Homo sapiens: one gene and its partners. The protein of the gene in region 2 purifies or fractionates together with the protein of the main gene of each other region. This does not show direct contact. Each region holds a gene or a part of one and is shown on either strand. Other genes may lie near its edges.

Region 1 (4,036 bases), on a different chromosome or scaffold from region 2:
ACTGCTGCCCTGACCTCAGCCCCATCCCATTCTGCCTAGCCCCTTGCTGGGCACTTCCCTCCCCAGGGACAGCCACAGAAAAATGATGATCTCGGCTGGGCGTGGTGGCTCACGCCTGTAATCCCAGCACTTTGGGAGGCCGAGGCAGGTGGATCACCTTAGGTCAGGAGTTCGAGACAAACCTTGCCAACATGATGAAACCCCGTCTCTACTAAAAATACAAACATTAGCTGGGCGTGGTGGTGTGTGCCTGTAGTCCCGGCTACTTGGGAGGCTGAGGCAGGAGAATCACTTGAACCCGGAGGCGAAGGTTGCAGTGAGCCGAGATCAAGCCGCTGCACTCCAGCTCTGGGCAACAGAGCAAGACTCTGCCTCGAAAAAAATAAATAAATAAGAAAGATGATCTCAGGGTCCCTACCCTAGGAGTCAGATGCACGGTGGGGCCATTCCTAGCGCTGCCTGCCCTGGACAGCGCCTGTCTATGCCTGTGGCCCAGCATCATTATGAGGAGTGCTCCCTTGACTCTGGCTGTCCTGATTTGGACACTAGACTTCATGGTCACCCTGGCCACAGGTACCCTATCCTGCATCCTGAGCTCCGCTCTTCCTGGAGTCATGGGCTGGTCTTTCCTCCTGGTGGCCTTGCGCCCCAGCTCCAGCTTCCTGACTTTTCTCTTCTGGAAATGGGAATGCCAAGTCCTATTTCATGGAGTTTTGAGAATGAAATGACTGGTGTACGGTGCAAAGTGCCTGTGAGTGCCCAAGAAATCTCTTTTATTAACAAGACACGAATTCATTCCAATTGATTTGACGGGCCACTGTTGTCACAGCAGCCGCACTGCCCCAAAGGCAGCAGTGATGTTTGAGCGCCGACTCCCCGACGGCACTTGGTCCTCACAACCACCCCATGGAGTTCATGCTAAGATCCTCGCATTTCATTTGTGTGGCAGGGACTTGCTGAGGTCCGGGGAGGGGCAGAGAGGAGGGGTGCGGCCGCCCCGCGCTTTGCACTTTCCGCGTCCTCCAGCAGAGGGGTCGGCCGGCGGGCTCAGCGTCCCGCATAATAGCCGCTTTGAAGCCCGCGGAGCGGGTGGCGGGAGGGGAGGGGAGAGGCGGGAGGGGAGGGGAGAGGCGGGAGGGGAGGGGCGAGGCGGGAGGGAGGGAGGGAGGGGCCGGCAGCGGAGGGAGGGGTGTGTCGGCCGCCCGCGCCGTTCCTCCGCCCCTCGGTCCCGCGGCCACACGCAGCTAGCCGGAGCCCGGACCAGGCGCCTGTGCCTCCTCCTCGTCCCTCGCCGCGTCCGCGAAGCCTGGAGCCGGCGGGAGCCCCGCGCTCGCCATGTCGGGCGAGCTCAGCAACAGGTTCCAAGGTAGGCGCCGCCGTCCCCGAGCAGCCACCTGTGCGCGCCGGGCGGACCGCGGGGTCCACCGCGCGCGGGAAGCGGGCGGGGACGGGGGCGCGTGGCCCGAAGAGGACCCCGCTTCCCAGGCCGCCTCTTTGTCTCCTCCAGGAGGGAAGGCGTTCGGCTTGCTCAAAGCCCGGCAGGAGAGGAGGCTGGCCGAGATCAACCGGGTAAGCCCCGCGCCCAGGGCAGCACGCGAGTCCCGAGCCGCGCGCTGCGCGGGTGCCACCTCTCCTTCCGCGAGGCCGTGCCCGCCTCCAGATCTACCCTCTTCCTTCCCTTCCCCTGGGCTTCCCTCAGGTGCCTCCCTCCGCCCCCAGCCCCGTCGCCTCCGACTCCAGGTAGGTCCGCCTCCGCCTCCCGCCTCCGGTCTCGGGTTGCAAGTTGTTACTCTTGCAACTGGGGACTGGGGAGGTGGGGCCGGGTCAGGAGCTCGGATGCCAGCCGGCTCGTGGCTCCCCGCAAGCCCGCTTGGGAGCAGCCCAAGGATTTGGCGCGGGAAGGGCCCTAGGCCAGTGATCTCTCCAGCTCAGAACACAGGCTCCGGGTCATTTGCTGGTCTGTCGCCCAGGCTGGAGTTCGGTGGCCCAATCTCAGCTCATTGCAGCCTCCACCTTTGGGATTCAAACGGTCCTCCCTCCTCATCCTCCCGAGTAGCTGGGACTACAGGCATGTGCCCCCACGCCTGGCCTTAGCTATTGTTGTTATAAGGGATTCAAAAGTACAAATAGAAGACTCTGATGGGCGTAGAGATCCTGGCACTTCCCCGTGGTCTCCAGCCTCCCGCCTCCCTCAAACACACCACTCCTCTTCACTCCAACTTTCAGGAAAGATTGCCTTAAGGGATTCAATGCTTTTCTTGCTGGTCCTGGTGGATTTCTCAAAAGAAATCTTTCCTGTTGTTGCCAGGCATCCAGTGAGAGCTCCATAAATTTACATAGATTCTAGAAGATAAGGAAAGATATCAGGACCTGTCTGGGTTGGCCAAAGCTCAAAGGCAGCACAGCCAGTGGCTTTAAAGTTCTGCAAGACCTGGGCTCAGATCTGGCCTCCACTGTGTGCCAGCTCTGTGGTCCTCAGCAAAGGGCCTCTCATCTCCAAGCAGGGCATTGTGCAGGCTCAGAGAGGGAAGGCCCGTGGCCTGCATGGCCCAGCACCCAGCATTCAGGAAGCACTCACAGAACTAGCATTATTTCCTGAGGTGGATGTCTCCCAGTTTCCTTCTTAACTGGTGGCAGAGGCACGCCCGCTGAAACAAGGCTTGGCATTCCCCCTGCAGGCTCCTCTGGTCCCCTGGACACCCAGGGTCTAAGCCCAGCTGACAGTCTGGAAGTGGGCCGCTGGTGAGGTCAGCAGAGCCCGAGAAGGCTGTGGGAGGCGGGTCCGAGCCTGGGGCCAGGTTGTGGTATTGCCTCTTGCCAGCAGTGTGCAGCCTTGATTCCCCCTTGGTTTTCTTGGACTGCTTGGATGTAGGCAGCCTGTCTGTTTTCCATCCGCTGGCTACAGGACTCCCATTCGGTCCCCAGCTACAGGGCTCTGGGGACCTCAGGGTTCCCCCTCCAGGTAAGCTCCGGCCTCCTCACCGCCACCCTCACCCTGCTTCCTGGGGGCATCTTGAGCACAACTGGAAGGTTGCCCGGACATCTGGCTGGGGTGCTCAGGGGTCTCGGATCCCTGCTGGGCTCCTTCCCAGATCACTGTGTGCCTGCCCAGCCTGGGGCTTGGCTGCTCTAGCCCTCTGGACAGAAGGCTGGAACCCCGACCTCATATAGCCCCCTGGGTCACTTGGCCAGGCGGGTTCTGAGCTGGCTGGAGCCACCCACAGCCAGCGGGACCCTGAGCCACAGACAGCTGGAGATGGGGGTGAGGTGACCATGGTTGGACAAGCCAGAAGAGCTAAGAGGGCGGGGCCAACCTAGCCCTTGGGGAGGTGGGTTGGGGGAGGGGGCGGCTCCAGGGTTGTTTTGGGAAACCGACTAGCTTGGCTTAGAAAGAGGAGGGACTTTAACAGCTGTCAGGGGCTGATCTGGGCAGCACTGGGACTAGGGAAAGTGAGCAGGAAGGAGCTGTGGTCTAACCACCTCAGGACAGCGCCCAGAGAGGGCAAGCAGCTGACCCAAGGCCACGCAGAAGCCAGTGACAGAGCTTGCAGCCCAGCGTCCTTCCCCTGCCAAGACGCTGTACTGAGACCCACCATGACAGCCCAGCCGCTGTAGGGCTGCTGAGGCCCAGGATCTGGGGCCCTGTAGGAAGGAGGCGCCAGGATCACACGGGAAGCTTGAGCTGCTTCACCACAGTGGAGCAGGGTGGCCCCACCAGTTTAGTCATGAGGTACCCACAAGCACTGATCTGTGACTCTGGGCAAGCCACTCACCTCTCTGAGCCTCCTTCTCCAAAAAGATAATGGTTGTGATTTTTTCAGTGAGACAATCTATGTAAAGCACCCAGGAGAGCTGGCTGCGGCCCTGATAGCTATCAGGACAGTTTCTTTGTTCGTGGCCTCAAGGTGCAGGGAGTGGAAGATACTCCGCCCTGGCTCATGCTGGTTGCTCAGCCCAGCAGAACCTCGTCTTCCCCAGCCTGAAATGGGAGCAGGGATCTCTGCCCCTCTGGAGTCCCTGCAACAATTAACCGATG
Region 2 (5,368 bases):
TAAAAGATGGACTGTGGTAATTATGTTCATCATTTTATAATTCATATAGCTCATCCACTAGATAGTTTCTCTTTTTTTACTGATCAAAAGCTATTTGCTGAGAATACACATATTAAATATGGGTATATTCTATAATATACACATATATAATTTAAAGATATTTTTAAAATTGTATTACTATAAAACAGAGAATGCAGAGAAAATTGACCAGTACCTTGAAATAATAAAAAGTCCCTTTGAGAACAAGAATATTTTCTCACACATGGAAAATTCGTGAGTCACTGGATGTGGGGATTTACCAAGTCATGTACATCATACTTATGCCTCCTGACTCGTGAACTTAAATAAACTGAGACCAGTGTGATCTTATTCTTAAGTATCTTTAAGTAAGGAGAAGGCACATATCTAACTATTCTTCCAGAGAAGCATTAATTCTTTTTTTTTTTTTTTTTTGAGACAGAGTCTCACTCTATCGCCCAGGCTGGAGTGCAGTGGTGCAATTTTGGCTCACTGCAACCTCTGCCTCCCAGGATCAAGCTATTCTCCTGTCTCAGCCTCTCAAGTATCTGGAATTACAGATGCGTGCCACCACACTTGGCTAATTTTTGTATTTTTAGTAGAGGTGGGGTTTCACCATGTTGGCCAGGCTGGTCTCAAACTCCTGACCTCAAATGATCCACCCACCTTGGCCTCCCAAAGTGTTGGAATTACAGGCATGAGCCACTGCTCCCGGCCCAGAGAACCATTAAATTCTAATATCTAATTGAAATTGCTTTTTCTGACCTTCAAATACATTTCTCCTACTGTAGGCTGTAACATAGAACTAAAATCCCCAAATAATTGAGAACAGGAGAATTAAACTGCCTGCTGGGTCTCTGAGACTTCAGAAGCTGCGTTATGTTGTGAAAAACTAAGCTGAGTTTCAAAGTGGTCTAATCACATGAGGCTGTCCTGCTGAGGGGGACTCTAGTAGTCAGCCTAGTAGTAGCAGCCTAGTAGTCAGCATAAGATAAGAGGGACATAAATCCACAACATTAGAATATTCAAGAGCTGCAAATGAAGAAGAAAGAAAAACCATAAAAGATGAAAAAGAGGACGGGCGCGGTGGCTCACGCCTGTAATCTCAGGACTTTGGGAGGCTGAGGCGGGCGGATCACGAGGTCAGGAAATTGAAACCATCCTGACGACCACAGTGAAACCCCGTCTCTGCTAAAAATACAAAAAATTAGCCAGGCGTGGTGGCGAGCGCCTGTAGTCCCAGCTACTCGGGAGGCTGAGGCAGGAGAATGGCTTGAACCCGGGAGGCGGAGCTTGCAGTGAGCGGAGATCATGCCACTGCACTCCAGCCTGGACGACAGAGCGAGACTCTGTCTCAAAAAAAAAAAAAAAAAAAAAGATGAAAAAATTCAGGTTGCCATGTCCTAAATACATACACTATATGCCCAGCTTTGTGCTATGTTGTCTAAGTCTTCTTTTCAGTTACCAAATGTGTGGATGGTACAGATCCAAAGTGAAATTCAGAGTGCAGAGGTGAGCTCCATATTGTCAAGGAAAAACTGGGGGATGAGTTATGCCTTGAAGAAACTAGAGACATTTGGTCCAACGAAACGAAACAACATTTAAAAAAAAAACTCTCCTGTTTCCCCATGGCTAGCCTATTTGTGTTGATGCTTACCATTTCATAATTTCCTCATTTTGTTGTTACATGGAGTGAAGAGAACTGACATGCTGTCCAATAAACTTCCTTGTCCTCCTTATGCAAGAAAGGAAATCCTGACTTAATGCGTAGCCACAGAACAAGTTAATATTCTACATCTATCGGAGCTGAACTTCCTAAAAGACAAAGTGTTTATCTTTCAAGATTCATTCTCCCTGAATCTTACCAACAAAACACTCCTGAGGAGAAAGAAAGAGAGGGAGGGAGAGAAAAAGAGAGAGAGAGAAACAAAAAACCAAAGAGAGAGAAAAAATGAATTCATCTAAATCATCTGAAACACAATGCACAGGTAAAATCTGCAACTCTTCCTTTCCTTCCATAGATCTCTTTTTGGAACAAGTGATAAATATGGTGAAAGACAGGACAATAGAAAAGTATTCACTGAAGTTAAAAAAAAAAGTGGGGGGACAGAGGAAGAGAGAGAGAGAGATTTAAAGACTATTTCTTATACCAGAAAGCCTGCTGGCCTCTAGCTAAGGGAGAGCTATCAGTTTCCACCCTTTCTGCAATACATTGTGTCCCTTTTGGCAAGTCACTTCACTTCTCTGGAACTCTCTTTGTCTGTAAAATGTTTAATGGGAGGAAGAGAGGAACTATTAGATGACTGTTAACATTTTACCTAATTTACAAAGCGCTTGAAAAGTGAGACACAGAAAAAAAAAAAAGATCAGGAGAAGGACAAGAAAAGCAAAGACGAGAAAAGGGAAAAGAAAGAAAAAGAAAGAAGGGGGGCCTTAGAAAATACTGAAAAAAATTTAACTGAGAGACTTAGAAAGGAAAAATTGTATATCTGAGTTCATGAGTCAGAGTCTTACTCCAGGGGTGCTAAACGTGTGGTCCTCAGACCAGCAGCAGCAGTAGCCCCTGGGAACTTGTTGGTTCCATACAAACTCTACTGAGTTGCTAACTCTGGGGGTAAGGGTCAGCAATCTGTGTTTCCATAAACCCTCCAAGTGATTCTGAAGCATGCTGAAATTTGGGAATTACTCAGTACAAACAATGGAAGTAGAAGGAAATAAGTAAGGATGAATAAGAATCTCTTCTATCTCTTTTGTACCTTGCTTAGGGAAGATTGATCATGTTTGTGTCTTTCTTTCTACAGAGAGAGGATGCTTCTCTTCCCAAATGTTCTTATGGACTGTTGCTGGGATCCCCATCCTATTTCTCAGTGCCTGTTTCATCACCAGATGTGTTGGTGGGTTCTGAAGGTCAAATTCAATTTAATTCTTCCTGGTGCATATTAGGAGAAAACTCTTCCATGCTGCCTGTAGACTCTCTTTGCCCTCAAAGGGTCTTTCTATTTCACCCTTTTTTTTTTCCCTATTAATCTCTAGGTTATTTCTCAAACCAGAAACCTCAACAAGCAGGGAACTGTTTCTGAATTTTAATCACCTGTGACTTACTTTTCATGATAGACATTTTTCACTTCCTTGGCAGTCCTGAATCCTCCTCTTTCAGCCTCTATCATTAGTGTAACCTTCTCTAGGAGAGTCTGCCTTAGAGCTTGAACTACTGGTCGGCACCAGAGATATGACTAATTACTTTTGGAAGGAAGGGTAGAGAGAGTTGGACTTGGCATAAGAGGTAGTGCAAACATATCTATTTTCTCTGGGTCGTAAGAAAAAGCAGATTGTAAGAAAAAACATGATAATTATTGGCACTTTTGTTATAAATACAAAACTGAGGGAACTGACATTTTTAACCGAAATAAGACTAACAAACATTATGCCCTTTCTTTTACAGTGACATTTCGCATCTTTCAAACCTGTGATGAGAAAAAGTTTCAGCTACCTGAGAATTTCACAGAGCTCTCCTGCTACAATTATGGATCAGGTATAATAGTCCCAAAGGTGAACATCAAAATTTACAAAGCAACATTTTCTGGCTTCTAGATTGACTTTGGGACAGGTGAGATATAGCTGGATTAGGTCTTATTTTTCAAAAGCAAAATGTAAAATCCTAGAAATTTGGTGATGCAATTAGCATTGGGGCAGAAAGTCTTGGGGACATTATAGTAAACTTTTAGAATAAATTTGAGGGGTATGTCTGAACAGTAAATCTGGAAGTGGAAGGTATTATTCCCAGGAGTGTACCTTTTTTTTCATTCACCTACTTCCAAAATGAGATGGAGAAAAAACGTATGGAGTAGAGAATTTATAAATATCTCACAAATATACTCTCTATGCTCTTCTATGTCATCCTGTTGCAAGTCCTAGCAAAATGCTACATGACACTAAAAAAGTGACTTCCTTCTCTGAGCTATAATTTTCTCACCATTAAATTGAGAGAAGTTAGAAGAATTATTTATAATAGACCTCAAAGGCAAAAGTTCTGTAATTCTAAGAAATCTAACTGTAGGGACCAGCCCCACAGGGTTGGTGGGTCTCTCCCTGTGTCCAGAGACGAGAGCATGTAGAAATAAAGACACAAGACAAAGAGATAAAAGAAAAGGCAGCTGGGCCCAAGGGACCACTACCACCAATGCGCGGAGACCGGTAGTGGCTCCGAATGTCTGGCTGCGCTGTTATTTATTGGATACAAGGTGAAAGGGGCAGGGTAGAGAGTGTGAGTCATCTCCAATGATAGGTAAGGTCATGTGGGTCACGTGTCCACTGGACAGGGGGACCTTCCCTGCCTGGCAGCCGAGGCAGAGAGGGAGAGGAGACAGAGAGAAAGACAGCTTACGCTATTATTTCTGCATATCAGGGACTATTAGTACTTTCGCTAATTTACTACTGCTATCTAGAAGGCAGAGCCAGGTGTACAGGATGGAACATGAAGGCAGACTAGGAGTGTGACCACTGAAGCACAGCATCACAGGGAGACGGTTAGGCCTCCGGATAACTGCGGGCAAGCCTGACTAATGTCAGGCCCTCCACAAGAGGTGGAGGAGCAGAGTCTTCTCTAAACTCCCCCAGGGAAAGGAAGACTCCCTTTTCCTGTCTGCTAAGTAGCGGGTGTTTTCCCTTGACACTTAACGCTACCGCTAGACCACAGTCTGTCTGCCTGGCCACGGGCGTCTTCCCAGACGCTGGCGTCACCGCTAGACCAAGGAGCCCTCTGGTGGCCCTGTCCGGGCATAACGGAAGGCTCGCACTCTTGTCTTCTGGTCACACCTCACTATGTCCCCTCAGCTCGTAGCTCTGTACGGCCTGGTTTTTCCTTGGCTATGATTATAGAGCGAGGATTATTATAATATTGGAATAAAAAGTAATTGCTACAAACTAATGATTAATGATATTCATATATAATCATATCTAAGATCTATATCTGGTATAACTATTCTTGTTTTATATTTTATTATACTGGAACAGCTCGTGTCCTCTGTCTCTTGCCTCAGCGCCTGGGTGGCTTGCCGCCCACATCTAACCCATCTATATACTACAGTATGGAGATTTGATTGAGGATACATTGTTTAGGTAACATAAGAGATGGCTCTTTGGGGGTCACCCAAATAAAATGCATAAATTTCTCTGACATTAGTAGTCTAAGAACAGATAATAAGGTTCTATATCAATAGCATAACTAAGATAGTTTGCATATATAGTTGCATTTCCTGGCACTGACATCCAGAGAATGAGAATTACGTTCAAAAGACCAAAAACATTCTGTTTATGTTTCTTGACATTGGAATTATCTAAAGTCTTAGAT
Region 3 (3,500 bases), on a different chromosome or scaffold from region 2:
TCTCGCAGCCTTTTCAAATAGCATCTATCATTTTCCATACATGTTAAGCTAAAACATTTAGGAGCAGAAAAACTTGCACCAAATTATTTTACCACTTGGTAGGAGAGCTAAGATGTTGAAGGACTTGATCACTTAAGGCATCCATAGCTGTTTTTCTTGATACCCAATTGTTATACTCCTGAGGATTTTAACTTGAGACGTGGAACAGCTTTCTTTGGCCATCCATTGGGAGCTGAATCACATATCTACAACACTTTGAGAAAAAGTATTCTTCTTTCTTAAAGTTGTTTATAGAATTTTTTTTACCAACTATTTATAAATTAAATTGTTATTTAAAGACTAACTTGGAGAGGTTCCTAATTATCCAGACTACTAATGTACATTGGTTTTCTTTTGCAGAAGCTGAGTATCTATGGTGACTTGGAGTTTATGAATGAACAAAAGCTAAACAGATATCCAGCTTCTTCTCTTGTGGTTGTTAGATCTAAAACTGAAGATCATGAAGAAGCAGGGCCTCTACCTACAAAAGTGAATCTTGCTCATTCTGAAATTTAAGCATTTTTCTTTTAAAAGACAAGTGTAATAGACATCTAAAATTCCACTCCTCATAGAGCTTTTAAAATGGTTTCATTGGATATAGGCCTTAAGAAATCACTATAAAATGCAAATAAAGTTACTCAAATCTGTGAAGACTGTATTTGCTATAACTTTATTGGTATTGTTTTTGTAGTAATTTAAGAGGTGGATGTTTGGGATTGTATTATTATTTTACTAATATCTGTAGCTATTTTGTTTTTTGCTTTGGTTATTGTTTTTTTCCCTTTTCTTAGCTATGAGCTGATCATTGCTCCTTCTCACCTCCTGCCATGATACTGTCAGTTACCTTAGTTAACAAGCTGAATATTTAGTAGAAATGATGCTTCTGCTCAGGAATGGCCCACAAATCTGTAATTTGAAATTTAGCAGGAAATGACCTTTAATGACACTACATTTTCAGGAACTGAAATCATTAAAATTTTATTTGAATAATTATGTGCTGAAATTTGAGTATCTGATTTTTCTAGACCTTCCCTCCTATTCCTGCCCAACCTAGATAAGAATTATGAAATGTTCTGTGTTTATTGCTATTGCTTTATAATGTGATGGTCAGGGACCATTTTGATGCAAAACTGATCTCTCAGCAGTACATTTGATGTTATTTTGCACAGGCTATAGGTTTTTGTTTGATGAGTGTTTCCAAAGAACTATTTTTCTCTGTTAGATAGCATATCAAGTATAAGGTAAACATATTTTCAGAGAAAACTTCATTTTAACACTAAAAATTAGACTCTTGTGATACAGAATTAAGTATAAATTTTACTTGGCAAAAACTCGTTTTATTTTTACCTGCAATAATACAGAGCTTAATATTAGAATGATATCAGGTCATAATAATAATACACCAGAATCTTTTGAGATGGAATTTTGCTCTTGTTGCTGAGGCTGGAGTGCAATGGTATGATCTTGGCTCACTACAACCTCCACCTCTGAGGTTCAAGCGATTCTCCTGCCTCAGCCTCCCGAGTAGCTGGGATTACAGGCATGCGCCACCACACCTGGATAATTTTGTATTTTTAGTAGAGACGGGGTTTCACCAGGTTGGCCAGGCTGGTCTCGAACTCCTGACCTCAGGTGATCCACCCACTTAGGCCTTCCAAAGTGCTGGGATTACAGGCGTGAGTGACTGTGCCCAGCCTACACCAGAATTCTAATATGATTCACTGTTATTATGCCATAAAATATTAAAAACTTTGTAAAACAATACTTTCCTCAGTCACAGGGGCATTGCTGACAACTGCATCAGTGCTGTTTGACTAAAGAATAAGTTAGTCACTCCTCCTATGGCCTAGTCTTTAGCCTTCCTGAGTCCAAATGAAAAGCAGTTAACAGCTAATCAAGGAAGACTTTGGTCACAAAGTGTAGGTTTTTATTTTTAGTTTGTCTAGATTTGGATGATAGAAAGTTGTGAACACATCCAGATGGGGAAGAAAGGAGGAATTAGCCGTCATTGTCAAGCAGTCATTGTTTCTTTCTTCTTTTTGTTAGAAAACATGGGATAAAACGTGGGGACTCAGCCAGGCACAGTGGCTCACGCCTGTAATCCCAGCACTTTGGGAGGCCAAAGCAGGAGGATCACTTGAGGTCAGGAGTTCGAGACCAACCTGGGCAACATAGCAAGACCCTCTCTGTACAAAAAAATACAAACAAACATGGGGACTATATAAAACATGGGTAGTGGATAGGAGTTACCATTAAAAAAAAATAAAAAGCCCTGTTGTTTCGTCTCCCATCATTAGTGCATACTTAGTTTCCTTAGTCAGGCACAGGTTTAATTGTAATGCATCCAATGAAGCAAACAGAGAAACACAAAATGCTGCTGTCTCACAGGAATCAAAGAGCCCACTGTTAGAAAAGACCCTCCCTTATAAAAACAAAACAAAGAATTATCTAGATCACTTGGGGCCAGGAGTTCAACACCATCCTGGGCAATATAATGAGAATCCCATCTTTTTTTTTTTTTTTAAAGCAACTGTACAGTTGTCCTATATTCTCCACCTTCCCTTGGTTTCATTTCTCTTCGCTTCCTGAATGAGAAGTGCCTGAGATACCTTCATTTCTCTTGAAAGTATTGATCCAAGTTTAGACAAATATCTCCCCTCTTGTTGAGAGAATTCCTTATATGTGAAAATACCAAGACATTCTTGATATTTAGCAGGCACTCAAATATTTGTCTCCTCTTTTTTAGCATAATTAAGCCAGACTGATGTTTGCATTTGAGTATCATCAGCATGAGTAACCATTTTAATCTCTCTTCCCTTAACTACTTGTTCTACACTAGAGTCTAGGGTCAGGGTACGTACAGTGATAAAGATTGAGATAATGGGAAATATAGTCTTCTGTTTGGGAAGCTGGATTGTAGTGTTGATTTTCTGACTCCTTGTGGTAATTAAATTCTGAAGCACAGAATCTACTTTTGAGAAGAAATATTTTACTTTTGAAAAAAAATCCCCAAAATATATACAGCATAAAAATGTTTCCGATCTTGAAAATCCCAACCAAAGCAACAAAACTGAGCTTCCAAGCCCCTTCTCCTAAAGTAACAGTTTTGCCCTTCTTGGATGTGCCTAACTTTACTTAGCTCCTTGTTTCCATAAAACAGTCATAATCTTATTTCCTACCACACAGAAAGCATCTTGAGAATCTGGTCTTGGTCCTAGGCAAATTCTCAAGACCGTTGGGTCTCTGGTTCAAACCTCCCAGACTTCTAAGGTCTTTCTTGGCTCAGGTCCCTCATCTAAGAGACATGCTAATTCAGGCAATTACAAAAGCAGTACTAATCACCATAATGAATGATCTGGGCCTAGGTTCCAAGTTTTCTCACAAAACTTCATGGGCACCTTTCATTTGTGATATGTTTTGTAGTAAATCAGAAATTACTAGATGATCTGGTCAATCTTATC
Region 4 (3,500 bases), on a different chromosome or scaffold from region 2:
TGTGGAATGGAAATTTGGGATTATTTGGGGTTAGTCTTGGCTGTCAGTCCAAACAGTTACTCTGAAGCTGTTTTTAGCCTTGACCCTGGGGTTCTGTGTGCCACACTCACCACACATGTGCAACAGTGCCAGGGAACCTTGGGATGTGACCTGGCTCTGCTGGGAAGTGTCTAGTGAGCCGCACAGCTGACTCAGACAGGTGCATCTGGGGAGGCTGTGGTTGCTGTGTCTGTCCTCGAGTGCCTGCCCTCTTTTGAAAGTAAGGACATCCTTCATCACCCCAGGGCCCAGCTTAGCCTTGGAAAACAACTAGATCTGTGGTCTGTGCTCATTCTCTTCGGGGGCTAGCACATTAGAACAATAAGCTCCATTTTCTCCTTCCATCTTACATTGAGACTGAGACTTCCCAGGAGAGCCTTGGACCTCTAGTGGCTTTCCCTATAAACTTGGGGGCAGCACATTGCTGTGTGGAAGATGCCTCCTCTCTGAGGACTCCACTCATGAGCCCTTCCTCCTCCTGCCAGCATTTTCTGGACTCCACCATAAGCTTCCCGCTTCTGTCCCCCTTGGTTCCTTAATGTGGCTGAGCATAGCCAAGTACTCAGCTCTGTCTCGGGATCCTCAGGAATTCCATCAGCCTCGTGGGGTTCCTTTTTCCCTGCTCCTGGAGGCAAATTATATGCAGCAAAACGTAGAACTAGTCTTGTGGATTTTCTTTGGTGGAGGAGCATACACCAATGGTTCCATGTAAAGGCTCCAGAATCAGAACTGGCGTCACACCTTGGTGTCACCCCTTCCTGCTGAGCCTGTCTCCCCAGGAGTGAAATGAGGGTAATATTCCTCCTACAAAGGGTGCGGTGGTGGGGGTTTACATGAGGTGGGCGCATCTGTACAAACGTGTTTATCATTGCCAGCTACTTTTTTTTTTTTTTAATAGAGACGGGATCTCACTATGTTGCCCAGGCCAGTTTTGAACTCCTGAGCTCAAGTGATCCTCCTACCTCGGCCTCCCAAAGTGCTAGGATTACAGATGTGAGCCAGCACACCTGGCCACCAGCTGCTTTCATGAAGGTGTTAGATATGCTCTCCTAACAGTGGAACGCGGTTTGATCCCTTCTCCTCACATACACAGTCATAAATGAGTCGTCAGAGTTACCCCAAAGGGAAATGGTAACATCTCCCTACAGAGAAAACTAGCACAGAACTTATGGGCCTCATTGAACAGTTACGTGGGTTGGTTGGACAGAAAAATGTTGGTTCAATTTTCAAATACTAAGGAGAGCTTATTTCAGGAGTCCCTTTTCTTACTTTGTTGAGGGGAGGCATCAGAGCACATGCTGGGAGGATAGGCCAGGAAGCAGGCAGTGGTAACGTGGGACATCGTGCACGTGGTGGAGCATGCCGCCATCTCTCCCTTCACCCTGGCAGAGCTCTCCGTTGAACGGGGAGGTGAACTTGGACATGGACAACAACCAGCCTGTGTCAAGGGGGTTTCCTTACCAGGACTCCTTTCTAGTTTCCTTTCACCTACAATGTGGTCATGGGGCAAAAACCCCAGAGACCACATATGTATTGGTGGAAAGAGAAAAAACAGGACTGTGGAGCCAAAGCTACCTCACTAGCTTTTGTGAAAGTCAGGCTGGAAAGTGCTTCCAGCCACAGAAATAGGCTGTGGGTGTAAATATTAACCTTGGCCATCAAATAAGTAGGCATAGAGTGTGACTCGCCCTCTCTTGGTCTTCCCTGAAACAGCAGGGTCAAGAACTCCTGGTCTGTGTTAGCCACGTGGCTTACAAAAACAATGACACAGAAGAGGGAAAGGTGGGACTAGCCAAGTGGAAGGCCAGCCGTTTATCTCTCAGTGTCCTGTGTCTTATATCCTGAGCAGAGCAAGGTGCAAGACCCTGGACTGGGCATCCAGCAGAAACTTCCGAGAAACTTGACTGTGAGGAAGGATGCTTGCCTAGCAATTGGTCGGATGAAGGGCTCCATTTGATACTTCCTTCACTGTGGAAGGAAGAAATTTGTAAAAATTATTTCCAGAATATGCACACATTAAAGGTTTATAAACCTGACCTTTCTTTAGTAGAAGACAGTAAGAGAATACTGTTGGCTCTGGGAACTAACCATTTGAGCTGTGGGACCCAGGGAATCTCTCTTGTAAGCATCATCTTTAGTGGGTGACTCCTGGTGGCCCTCCCAGCTCTGGTGGTGCTGTGGGGACCTGCCTTGGAGATGCCTTGGTACTAGTACCTTTTTTGTACCAGGCCATGAGCCTAGGGCACAGGGCCTCTGGCCTGCAGATTTCAGGAAGGCAGCTGTGTTGTGTGAACCGATACAGCCTGCCAGCACTTCTGTCCCGAGTGACTGTCGTTGTCATCGTTAGCATGTTGCCTGAAAAGCCTTGGGGTCTGGGCGCTGACACTGAAGCTTTTTTTTCCCTTCTGGCTCTGTGATGTCCAGCATTACCCAGAACGCCATGGAGGACCAGAGCGCCACGGCCGGGACTCCCGCGATGGCTGGGGGGGCTATGGCTCTGACAAGAGGATGAGCGAGGGCCGGGGGCTGCCTCCTCCCCCCAGGTTTGTGTCCCACACCCGACAGTACCTGACCCCCCCCCCGCCCACAAGGGGGCCCGCAAGTCGCTGGGATGTGGGCACAGGGTGGGAAACACAGAGGGATTCACTCTCCAGAAGCCGCCACAGTTATTAGCACAAGAGCCAGAGATGGGGGCAATCCAAATCAGAGATGTCTCTCTTTCAAGGGGCAGACGTGACTGGGGGGACCATGGCCGAAGAGAGGATGACCGGTCATGGCAGGGCACGGCCGACGGGGGCATGATGGACAGGGATCACAAGAGGTGGCAAGGTGAGGAGCAGCTCTGGGCTGGGACCAGGATGTGCTGGGGAGTGATGGAAAGATGGAGGCCGCGCCTTCTCTCCTTGGGGGAGCACAGGAGGTGCTCTGCTCTCAGTGCTGGAATGAGGAATGAAGAGCACTCCAGACACCGCCTGCTCTCTGGTGGTCTGGCCCAGGAGTTGGACAGTGGGCGTTCCCGAGTTCTCTCTGCTGGGAGGAAGCTGGACGTCTATGGTCCCTGTGCCCAGGTGTCTTCCTGGGACCCGCTAGTTGTGGGTACCTGGGGGCCTCACCAAAGGGAGTGGAGTGGGCTAAATGTGCCGTGGGTTCCACGCCGTGTGCGCAAGTTCCCTGTGTGAAAGCACGTCTGTCTTCCAGGTGGCGAGAGAAGCATGTCCGGTCACTCCGGGCCTGGCCACATGATGAACCGAGGAGGAATGTCAGGGTAAGGCATGCTGGGGGCGGCGCCCCTTCCCCCTGCTTTGCATATTGGCCTACCTTGCTGGAGGCTTAACAACCAAGTCCTTCCAGCTAGTGCCCCTCCCCCCAAGGGTGACGTGAGGCCAGGCATGGGGTACTGTGGAGGCTGCTGCCACTCAGGAGGGGAGGGCATTAGGAAGGGGCCCTGCCTGCAGGCAACA

What was found.
Region 1: the proteins of CLEC4E (region 2) and AIF1L purify together in Homo sapiens (affinity purification with mass spectrometry, with the first as the bait; one large-scale study listed by BioGRID). This does not show direct contact.
Region 3: the proteins of CLEC4E (region 2) and TMEM59 purify together in Homo sapiens (affinity purification with mass spectrometry, with the first as the bait; one large-scale study listed by BioGRID). This does not show direct contact.
Region 4: the proteins of CLEC4E (region 2) and SAFB purify together in Homo sapiens (affinity purification with mass spectrometry, with the first as the bait; one large-scale study listed by BioGRID). This does not show direct contact.

Annotation. Positions count from the first base shown.
Region 1 is NC_000009.12:131,095,295-131,099,330, forward strand, and holds the start of AIF1L (allograft inflammatory factor 1-like), read left to right. Parts: upstream 1-1,236; 5' UTR 1,237-1,335; coding exon 1,336-1,366; intron 1,367-1,485; exon of another isoform or gene 1,486-1,507; coding exon 1,508-1,569; intron 1,570-4,036. UniProt on the Homo sapiens protein: Actin-binding protein that promotes actin bundling. May neither bind calcium nor depend on calcium for function.
Region 2 is NC_000012.12:8,537,399-8,542,766, reverse strand, and holds the start of CLEC4E (C-type lectin domain family 4 member E), read left to right. Parts: upstream 1-1,861; 5' UTR 1,862-1,969; coding exon 1,970-2,006; intron 2,007-2,819; coding exon 2,820-2,912; intron 2,913-3,460; coding exon 3,461-3,550; coding exon of another isoform or gene 3,551-3,567; intron 3,568-5,368.
Region 3 is NC_000001.11:54,029,205-54,032,704, reverse strand, and holds part of TMEM59 (transmembrane protein 59 isoform 2 precursor), read left to right. Parts: intron 1-399; coding exon 400-555; 3' UTR 556-3,500.
Region 4 is NC_000019.10:5,664,583-5,668,082, forward strand, and holds part of SAFB (scaffold attachment factor B1), read left to right. Parts: intron 1-2,463; coding exon 2,464-2,582; intron 2,583-2,764; coding exon 2,765-2,868; intron 2,869-3,237; coding exon 3,238-3,304; intron 3,305-3,500. UniProt on the Homo sapiens protein: Binds to scaffold/matrix attachment region (S/MAR) DNA and forms a molecular assembly point to allow the formation of a 'transcriptosomal' complex (consisting of SR proteins and RNA polymerase II) coupling transcription and RNA processing.